Homo sapiens: one gene and its partner. The protein of the gene in region 1 purifies or fractionates together with the protein of each later gene. This does not show direct contact. Each region holds a gene or a part of one and is shown on either strand. Other genes may lie near its edges.

The links.
Region 2: the proteins of SCN5A (region 1) and PRMT3 purify together in Homo sapiens (co-immunoprecipitation; one study listed by IntAct). This does not show direct contact.

Annotation. Positions count from the first base shown.
Region 1 is NC_000003.12:38,642,508-38,647,811, reverse strand, and holds part of SCN5A (sodium channel protein type 5 subunit alpha), read left to right. Parts: intron 1-5,304. UniProt on the Homo sapiens protein: Pore-forming subunit of Nav1.5, a voltage-gated sodium (Nav) channel that directly mediates the depolarizing phase of action potentials in excitable membranes.
Region 2 is NC_000011.10:20,462,972-20,468,275, reverse strand, and holds part of PRMT3 (protein arginine N-methyltransferase 3), read right to left. Parts: intron 3,817-5,304; coding exon 3,730-3,816; intron 1-3,729. UniProt on the Homo sapiens protein: Protein-arginine N-methyltransferase that catalyzes both the monomethylation and asymmetric dimethylation of the guanidino nitrogens of arginine residues in target proteins, and therefore falls into the group of type I methyltransferases.

The sequences.
Region 1 (5,304 bases):
CAAGGGCAGCTGCTGTGCTCCAAGGTGCTCGGCTCCCTCTCTGTGTGTTGATCAAAGCTCCTCTGGAAAAATTCTAGTATTGACTCACTCAGCATGAAGATTGGGCTTGGAGGACTAGTGGGAAGCACCAGAGACAGCTGGGGATGGGAGAAGAGCGGAGGCTGGTGCCCAGGCAATCCAAAGAGAAGGGAGTCCTGAGGGCAGCCAGGGACAGTGGCAAATTGCAGTTTGTGTTCTGTTCAGAGGAGGCTGGCTTATGCTCACTCTTGGGAAGGTTATTGGAAGGGTGTGCAGTGGTAGAAGTGTGTCCCCAGAGCCCATTCACAGGAGAGGTGGTTACCTTTGGCCGGAATAGTCAAGAATCTTATTCTAACAAAAATAACCTTCCACACTGGGTTTTGAAGGGTGAATAGGAGTTTTCCAGGCAAGGACAGTGCAGTCTAGCTGTCAGGACCAGTATGTACAAAAGACAGAAAAGTGAAACAGCACAATTATTAGTTGAGTGATTCGTTGGGCCCCATGGTGTGAGGAAGAGAAGAGCGGAGTTAAAGCCAAGGTCACAGTCACGGGGGCCCTTGTGAGCTCTGCTCAGGAATTGGGAATTTATCCTCAGTAATGTTACTAAAAATAGCTAACATTCACTGAGTGCTTTCTGCAGGCCAGGCATGGCACTAAGCGCTTTATACGGTTAATCTCACTGAATCCTTGCATCAACCCTAGAGGTAGGGACCATCATAATGGCCGTTTTGCAGATGGTGAAACTGGTGGTCCAGAAAGGTTAAATAGTTGCACACCGTCACATTTTCTAAGTAGCAGAACTTGGGTTTGAGCCCAAGTGTCAATATCTGCTGTGTACTATACCACCTCCCCAGCTCAGACCATGGGTGCCATGCAAAGTCTTTCCATTGAAGGAGAGGCGACTGGCAGCTTACCACAGGTAATAGAACTTATGGTGTCCCATCTTCCTTCTCTGTCAAGTGACATGCTGCTCTCCCATTCCCCACCTCCAATGTCTCACTAAGTGAGGTGTGCTGCCCCCTGGCGCACCATGAGAAGAAGAATGGGCAAGTTAAATTTGGGTTGGCAAGCTTGATGAAGAGCAAAGGAAAAGTGACAGATGTTTCATGGTTCTGATTTGAACCTGTTGTACTTCCAGGGACAGATGCTGACATCCAGAAGGTAGTTGGAGGGAAGGGTCCAGGTAGGAAGTATGTTCAGGATGGAGATCTGGGCTGGAAATGGAAACTTAGAGCTTTCAGCAGAGGTTGGTCATTGGAGATGTGGCACTGAGTTAGATTGCCCAGCGAGAGTGCAGACCTGGGGTTCTCACTCCTGGTGACATTAGCATCACTTGGAAAGCTTTAAGTAAAAATACCTATGCTCAGGCTCCAGCCCTAGACATGCTAATTCATTTGACCCTGGGATGAGGCCTGGGCATCGGGAGTTTTGGAAGCACCCAGGTGATTCTAACGTGGTGTAGAGGGTAAGAAGGAAGGGGGCTGAGTCAGGAGCCCAGAAATACTCCAACCATCAAAGCAGGAGAAGTCTGCAGAGAAGGCTGAAAAGGAGCAGCCAGAGAGGTAGGAGGAAAGCCAGGAGTAGGAGGCGCTGCAGAAGGCAAGGAGAGTGCCCTGCTCGGGGGGAGGGAAAGTGCCCTGTTTCTTTCTGCTGAGAGACTTAAGGTGCATTCTCAGAAGTTCATGGATAGATAGAAAAAGAATGAATAATTTAAAAAGAAGTGTCCATTAGATCGAGCCATGGTGAGGGTGCTGGTGACCTTGGTAGGAGAAACTCCACTCAGCGCCCGCAGAATGTAGGGCCCAGTACAGACAGGTTCTTGTTGAATGAATGAATGAGTGACTTGGTGGGAATGGAAGCCAGTTTGGAGTGGGTTGAGAAGCGAGCTGGAGGTGAGGACGTGGAGACAGCATGTATAGACAGCTCTTTCAAAGAGTTTGATGGTTGAAGAGGGAGGAGAGAGATAGAAGGGAGCTGGCGAGGGGTGGGGTCAGGGAGGGCTGTCGGGAGAGCCTGGAGTGGACACTGTGGGCATGCGTGTCCGTGCAGCACATCGCCATGCAGGAGCCTGGGGGAAGGCCTTTCCCTCAGTGAGGGCTGCAGGTCTGTGAGTTAAGATCGTACCAGTGAAGTGTGTAGTGGTTACTGTTTGTTCAGGGGGCAGTCAGGAAGGCCTGGGTAGAGGGAATAACTCTTTCTGTGAATCTCTGGGAGGGAGATTTTGATGGCAGGAAATGTGATTCCTGCTGGGGGTGGCAGGCAGAAAGGGAAGGGAGCCCTTGCTCTGCAGAGAGAAGGGTGTTCCAGAAAGCCGTATTTAGGGACAAGATTAAGTTGTCTAGGGCAGGTATCCAGGGTGATAGGATTGGGAGAAGGGAGCTGGAGTAAAAGCCCTGCGGCTAAATACATGAAGAAGGCAGAGAGAGGAAAAAGCAGGGCCAGTGAGTAGCCTGTGGACAGAGGCTGGGCCCCGTGGGGAGCAGACCCACGACAGGGCTGGCCAGGGCTGCAGGGGAAGCCTGGGACGGGAGAGCCCCACAGCCTGCTGCCAGCCCAGGCTGCCCTGATGCAGGGGTCTGAGGCAGAGTTCATGCCTTTGGGCCATGGAAGGTTCTAGAAGGTGTACAAGCTATAACAATTGTTCTTATGAAGTTTACATACAAGTAGGGAGATACCATTAAACCAATCCATACAGAAGATAATTTGAGATAGGGGCTAGTGCTATGAAGGAAATACAACAGGACAATGTGATGGAGAGACGTGGGGGTGACTCTAGACTGGCTGGGCAGGGAAAGCCCCTTGAAGGAGGAGACTGAACTGAGACCTGAATAACATGAAAGAACCAAGCCCGAGGAGGTCTAGGGAAAGAATGTTACAGAGGGAACTGCAAGTGCAAAGGCCCTGAGGCAGGGGCAAACTCTGTGGGTTGGAGCAGAGGGAATAGGGTAGGGATGGAGAGGTTCTGTGCCTCTGTTTCTGACCCACCCCTTCAGACTGCCCATTCGGCTATGCACAGCTTACACCACTCGCCTCAGGCTGGCAGCGGTTCCTGGGGATGAGACTATTTTTAGACACAACTCTCCTATCCGTGGGCCTAGAACATACCGTGTCTTTTTAAGATGATCAATATGGAATGACGCTATTTATAGAGACCCCACATCAATTCTCAGAGCCTGGGAGCCCCAGTGTGGGGACAGTCCCAGGACCAGGCTTTGTGGAGGTAGGCACCACCCCTGGCACAACACTGAGGCCATCTGACATCAATTCTTTAACACTTATCTTACCTTCTCCACCCCGCCTGCCGTCACTTGTCTTCCCTGAAGAGCCACAGCCATGGGCTGGGGAGCTTGGTACCCACAGCCTCCCCCTGCAACTTCATTTCCCCAAGGGGTACCTGGTATGCCCCAAGTCCAACATAAAATTTAGTTGTGATTTGCGAAGCCAGAGTCTGATAGAACAGTTTCTCAACCTCTCTTGTCCATTCCTCACTCTGTTTACTATTCTGGAGGGGCAGAAAAGGACAGTGAAAATTCTTAAGACCTCCTAGGTTCGCCTCAGAGGGCCAGGGAGAGATCCGCCCAGGACAGGAAGAATGTAAGGTTGAACTTAGGGGCTGAGCTTCCCTGGTGGGAGGTCATTGTGGCCCAGAGCAGCCAGGCGAGACTGCCTGGAACAGGTGGGACTGGTACCCCTCCACAGAGGATGCACAGAATTCAGAGAGGTGAATGCCCAGATCATGTGACTGGGCCTGTTGTCAGGAGAGAATGTCTATGCACTGAGGCTTCAGTTCTTTCTCTCCTCTTCAGTTTCTTCTTCTGTTTAAATCTCCTAGGGAGGCAATGGAAAGTCATGTCCCCACAGAGGTATTAGCAGAGTGGAGGGATGGAGCTGCTCTCGCAGCATCTCTGTGTGCCCAGGAGGGTCTCTTGTCCACTCAGAAACCCCTGTCATCATCACCAAGGGCTTTCCTTGGCCTCCTAACAGCCCTGGGTGGCCAAGGCTGGTGCTGGCTGCCCCATAGGCTCAAGGTCACACGGGGAAGTGGGCAGAGCTCAGACAGGACTTCACCCTTACCCTTGCCCAGGGAGCCCCCGTGGTTTCTGGGAATGGATTTTGAACAGGAGAGAGGCTTCTCCTGGCACCAGGAGAAAGGTAAATGCCGTTCTGGTAGGTATTGATTCCTCGAAGGCCTGTGCAAGGCAAGAGGCCGCTTTCAAAGAGTTGGCAGAGCAGAGAGAGGTAATCTGGCTTCAGGCACCAAATCAGTTCTCAGGGTACTCAAGCTACATTAGCCATCCCCCTACACTCAGGCTTGGCTGGGAGGTACCCCAAATGATCTAAGATGGGGGAAAAATCAGACCATGGGTGGGACCAGCCAAGCCCAATCAGTGCACCCTGCCTGGCCATCAAAGCCCCAGCCTCATCGACCTGGGCCAAGCGCAGGAAAGTGGCCCAGACAAGCCCCTCAGAGCCAAGGTGCCCGCCCTTGGCTGCGCAGCTCTGCTGCCTCTGGGCATGCTCCTAGGAAGAACCCCAGCCCCGCATTCATTCTGTACTGAGCCCAGGGCTCCACTCAAGGGACACCAGCTGGTGTGGGGTACAAGGAGGCTGAGGGCCAGAGACCACCCACCCCAGCCTCTGTTCCTCATGTTCTGCTCATAGACGTGGTCAGAAGAAGACACGGGAGCTCAGCCGGCCATTTGCAGCGACAGCCTCACCACTGTGCTGGGTCAGATGCAGCACAGACTGCCAGTTAAATAAAGCGACAGCTAGTTGCCAGCAAAACTGGAAACCCAAGGAAAGCCCCCACTTGCTTGCGGAGCCTAGGTGCCTATTAGATGTCTAATTGCTGAGCTTCTGTTTCAGGAAGTCCGAGGGAAGGAGAGATAACAACTCCCTAAGGATCCCTTGGGGTCTATGGTCCCCAGAGATAGCTGGACTTCAGGTCCCTTCCAGTCCTCGCCTTTTATGATCAAATTAAGGACACGTCCCCAGATGGGTGACTTGTATTCACAGTGCATTACACAGGGAGCTTAGATCACACTCGCCAACAAATAAAAGGTAAAAATCTCAAACATCGTGTTGAGTAAAAACAGCCTGACACAGAAGAGCCCATAAGGTAGAATTCCATATGCATGAAGTTCCAGAACAGGCAAAACCAACCTAGGTGATAGAAATCAGAGCAGTTGACTGAAAGGAATAGTGGGACTTTCTGGGGTGAGGGGATGTTTGCTGTCTTATTGGAGTGGCACTCACACAGGTGTATGCATTTGTCAAAACTCATCC
Region 2 (5,304 bases), on another chromosome or scaffold:
AAGCATTCAAGTTTCAACACAAGAAGAAAAGCATTTAATATCTGAAGGTTTGTACTTAGCAGTACAAATTCAGATACTTTCTTCTTCCCTCTATCTAAAAAAGCCCAATCTCTTCCTCTTATTCCCCAGTTACTTTATTTATTCCTTTACTAGGCTTTTTCAAAAACTTTCAATATCTTCGCTAATTCTTCTAACTATAAAGGGGAAACAAAGTTCCAATTAGGCACTCATCCTTTTTAATACTTTTGTTATGGATTATTCCCACATAAACTGGGCGACTAATCCATTCAAAGAGGCCATGCTTGCGTAAGTAGCTCCAGATGGATAGGTCTGTAGGAGGGAGGGTAAGGAGCTGATACCATCCCAAAGAGCAAGAGAATCGAAGTAAATATGGGTGGATAGTTAAGATTCACAAATAATGAACACCTAATAGAAGCATTAGGCCACAACATCTTACATATGTCAAGCTCACGTTAGAGTTAGCATGCTGGGAAGGAGGTTTCCAAGAAATGTAGATGCTTAACCAAACAAGTATAAGCTTACTCTGAGAGGATAAAGAAAAACTTCAAAGATCTACTTCCTATCTGCTGCAAAGAGGATGAACTCTGGTACTGATTTCATCACATGAATCTGTGAGGCCTGTCTCTTAAGAAGAGTGAATTCTGATTATACATATTCTCTTTCCCTCTTCATTCCAACTGCTGGACTATTTGCCAAAAATAAACATTGTTAAATCTGTTTCAAATGCAACACGAAGCCTGCTTTCTTCTACCCCTGTAAGATCTTATTCATAGGTTTCTCTAAGTTCTTTTAATAGTTTCTACAATCCCACAAAGAAGGTTTTTTGGGTCAGGAAAGAGTAAGGAGATTTTATTTCACAAGTAAAACAGTAATTTTTTTCCTTCACCAGTAAGATGGGAATAATATGAGTACTCATCTCAAATGGTTATTATGAGAACTAAATAATGCTTTTAAAGTGATTAGCACATTGTCTGACATTCAAGTGTTCAACGACTGTTGATGTACGTTACCTTCCTCTGATAATATTAACTAAATTTTAAAGGATAATGTCAGAAGAGTTAACATTCAATGCTAACTACTAAAATATTTTATCTTCAGTACCTGGCATGCATCCAATAAATGGTTTGTAACAATACATTCTTCCTGAGGTGAGTTATGGAACTAGGTTATTCAGCAGTAACTAGACACCTGTAACTCCACTCCAACCTCCTGCCACCTTCTTCGCAAACCTTAGGCTCACCTAATTTCCAAACAAACTTTTTCATAAACACCATTCAGGCAAGTTGCGACTAAAAATGCAAATCTAAATAAAAGGTACTTTATAGATATAATGTAACAGTTTACTTATAATTCATTTTTCTTATGGAACTTTGTACAGGGACAAATGCAGCAAGTAACTATTTGATACTTAGATTCTTCAATATTAAAAGTTCAATTACAATCTTTGAATTAAATAGACTTTACCAATTTTTTTCTTGTTTTGTTTTACTCTTTTAAGTATACAGAATAAAACTAAGATGTTTCTTTTTACTCTTTTAAGTATACAGAATAAAACTAAGATGACTGAAGGATACAGTTTCATTTAATACAAACCTTCTTGTACTCTATCCTAAATACTAGGAAATAGAAAACAATTCCATATATGTGTTATGAAACTCCAGATCTGTAGTATAAAACTGTAGCTAAAACTGCTTTCCAAAACTTACTGACAGCTAGGGCCCCACATGACCTAGATTCACCAAGCAGATATGCTGAATGAAGATTTGGAAGGAGAACATGGCCTACCTGGGTTGGGAGGACAGAGGACCAGGAACCAGGATGGTAGTAAAGGGTTTTGTTCATCTGGGGTTGTCAGTGGTGGCTAACACGGAGTGGGCTAGGGGAATTAAGGTAAATAGAACCTACAGTGCTAGGCTATTTAAAACAGGCAGCTCTGTAGCAGGCCAGTTCAAAGGTGTGGTTCTAGAAGTTTCTAGAAGTTGAAAATACTGTCTGTTCCTTTAGGTCTCCCAATGTGTCTGGAAACTATTGTATTCCCTCTAACAAATCTCTCAGTTTAAACCAACCGATTTAAATTCTGTTGTCGAAAACTAAGAACCCTGACCAATAAACTAGAAAAAAAGAACATTTCAATGAAAGTCAATAAACTTTTCTAGAGTTCACAAATATGCACAAGCTTTTGACATCTTCAGTAGAGTTTTACATCTGCTCTATTTTGATTCATGTGATAGGCACTGAAAATATATGTGAAATATATATTTAATACTGGTGACATGACAATTTATTCTAGGAATTCCTTTATAGATGATTGATCAATTTTCATTAATCAAGATGGTCTTTTTTCAACCCTCATGTATTAATAATATCAAAACAAAAAGGAAAGTCTAGGAGTTAGCCTTTAGCCTAATTTCAATTGACAAAAATAATTTCAATTACTAAAAAGCAGAATTAGAAAATACATGGGAAATGAATCAAATTTTGCTTTTTGTTAATTAAATAAATAATGAGTGCTCCAAAGTCACAAATCTTTATTTGTGATATTTAAACTTTAATCTGGATATTTAAATTAAACTTAAATCTGGATATTTAAACTTTAAAAAATTATAAAACCAACTTCAACTAAAAGAAGATTCCCTCAAAACATCAAAGTACATTGTTAAACTTATTTGGATATAAAATAATCACTGAATCAAAATGAACTGAAACAACTGTAAAGACATGAAGTCTTGTGTATAATATATCGATCTGAACCAAATATTTAAAAGAATCAGGCAGAAGACTCAATGTTAACATGACTTATAATCTATTTTACAGATTCTGACAATACAATTTTCCATAAAAATGTAAACTTCTGAGGACATAGTTTTAAAAACCATATATTTTTAAAATAATATAAATATGTTAATACCACCTATATAAACTCATACTATAAGGAGCAGATTTTATGAACAATTTGAGTCTCCTGACAGCAGTAAATGTTATCTTAAAAAAATAAACATTTATAAATTATTTGAGATGAAAAATTTTTTATATTTTAATAATCTAACGTTTCTGGCTACATTGCAGGTATTTTCACATATATCTCATGAATCCATGTAATGAGTCATCGAAACAGAATTATCCCCATTTTTCTTAAAGCAACTGAATAGTCTGAAGTACAGATTACTTAGGTAACTTAACAACGAAATAAGTGGTAGAACCACATAGGAACCCAGATCTGCCTAACTTTTCCAAAGGATTTTTTCTATTAGACTATTAAATTATTATTAGATTTTTGAAAGGTAACTCAATAGCAGTTCAGTAATTTTTTCATACATAAATATAAAACATAAAATATTCTACCAAATAAACATATCTTCCATCTAAATTAAATGTAAAGAGTTAAAGGGAGGAATAGGGTATGAACTTTGGTCTTTGAAGATAAAGTTGAGTGCTCTTGACTAACCACGTGATAGGAAATAATGAAGACTCTATAAAGAAAAATCATTATGTAAACAGGGTTTCCTAATACTTTTTCTACTGAATTAAACTTTTTTGAAGTTTACTGACCTATTAACCAGATCTGTTCAATGGCCTAGCAAAGGCAATGGTAGACTGTCAGAGGCAATAGTCATTTTCATTTGTCACAAGCCTGGTAATTAAACTCATTAGCCTGCCAATCAACTGCACTGCTAGTGAAATTTGTAAAAGCAGAATGAAATAGCTTACCGTGCACATGGATGTCCTTGTGATTTTCAGGGTAAAATCTGATGAAAATTCCAAATCTGAGATAGACGTCGTATGGCAATCTATATGCTACCCATTAAAAAGAAGTGAAGAAAGAGCTTAGTAAAAATAGTCCAAAAAAAAAAAACAAAAAATAAAACAAAAACAACCCAGACAAACATTACTTCTTTTATGCACAAATGATTATTGGAAACCAAAGTTTTGCAAACTTTACTCACATGCTAATTTTTGGAATTATTTATAAGTTTAAGGAGTACTAGTACTATCATCTTGTTAATTTTTTCTTAAATTCATTTAACTTAGGCTCCTTGTAAACAATAGTATTTATCAAATCATAGTGCTAATGTGCTAAAGTTTTCCTGACACACTAAAATAAATACTTTCAAATAAAAAATGTTTTCCTGTGTTTCACCTAACATCATTTTGCCTACTGTGTATGGTACACCCACCACAACTGCTATAAAATATGTGTGATAACAGTCAATACATTTATAGGAACTGCCAACTTGAAAACACATGCTAATGAAAAGAAAGTTGTTTTAAAATTCATGTCTATAATTGAAGATAAGTTTTGTTAGATATGAGGAGAAACCACACAATTCAAACAAAACAGCAAAACTATGGAGATTTCGATCCAGAGAAAAAATAGCGAAATATCTTTATTTTCCCATTCTGCCCTTTTTCAAATCCTTCTCCATTATACTTTGGAGAAGGGATGGAATCACCTTTCAACTACAGCAGTCTAACCAGAAGTGTGCTGTAAAGACCGTCATCAGCTGAGTAGATCCAGCCAGGAGTAGATCATAACCCAGTGAATGCAATTAATGTAACCACACATCTGAGACACTATTGAAAACAATTTGAGAAAACATTTTAACAGTACAATGTGTTTGTGGGAGGACTGGAAAATACAGAACAAACTATTTACTTAAATAAATGTTAAAAAAAAAAAAAGAGTACATACACTTTTTAACACCTTATTTTCAGGTCTAAATTTTTCTGTCTCAACTATTTATTCATGGCAGTTTTTGCATTAAGCAGAGATCACTAGAGAGAGAAATCAGCAACCTCCACCAACTCTCCTCTTTCTGCTCAACTTTAAGGCTTAGTTGGTTATAACTGTACACTCCTATCCTGAGCCAAAGAGCCCAAATAAACTCTTTATTCTCACTGTACCAGAGCACTGAAGTCGTATAACCATCAAGCAGACTGTTTTTCTTAAAAGCTGAACGCACTTTTAATCAGCCTGCTCTTGTTAAGAAACTTCACATTTATTACTCTATACTATTAATGCTTTATCCATTTAAGAAAATTAAATATGTACTAAATATCTGCTTTGTACAGAGAAGAAATATTGATGCTATATGAAAGTAACAGCGTGATTAAAACGAGAAGACAGCACTTCGGGAGGCCGAGGCAGGCGGATCATGAGGTCAGGAGATCAAGACCATCCTGGTCAACACGGTGAAACCCCATCTCTACTAAAATACAAAAATTTAGCCAGGCATGGTGGTGCATGCCTGTAGTCCCAGCTACTTGGGAGGCTGAGGCAGGGGA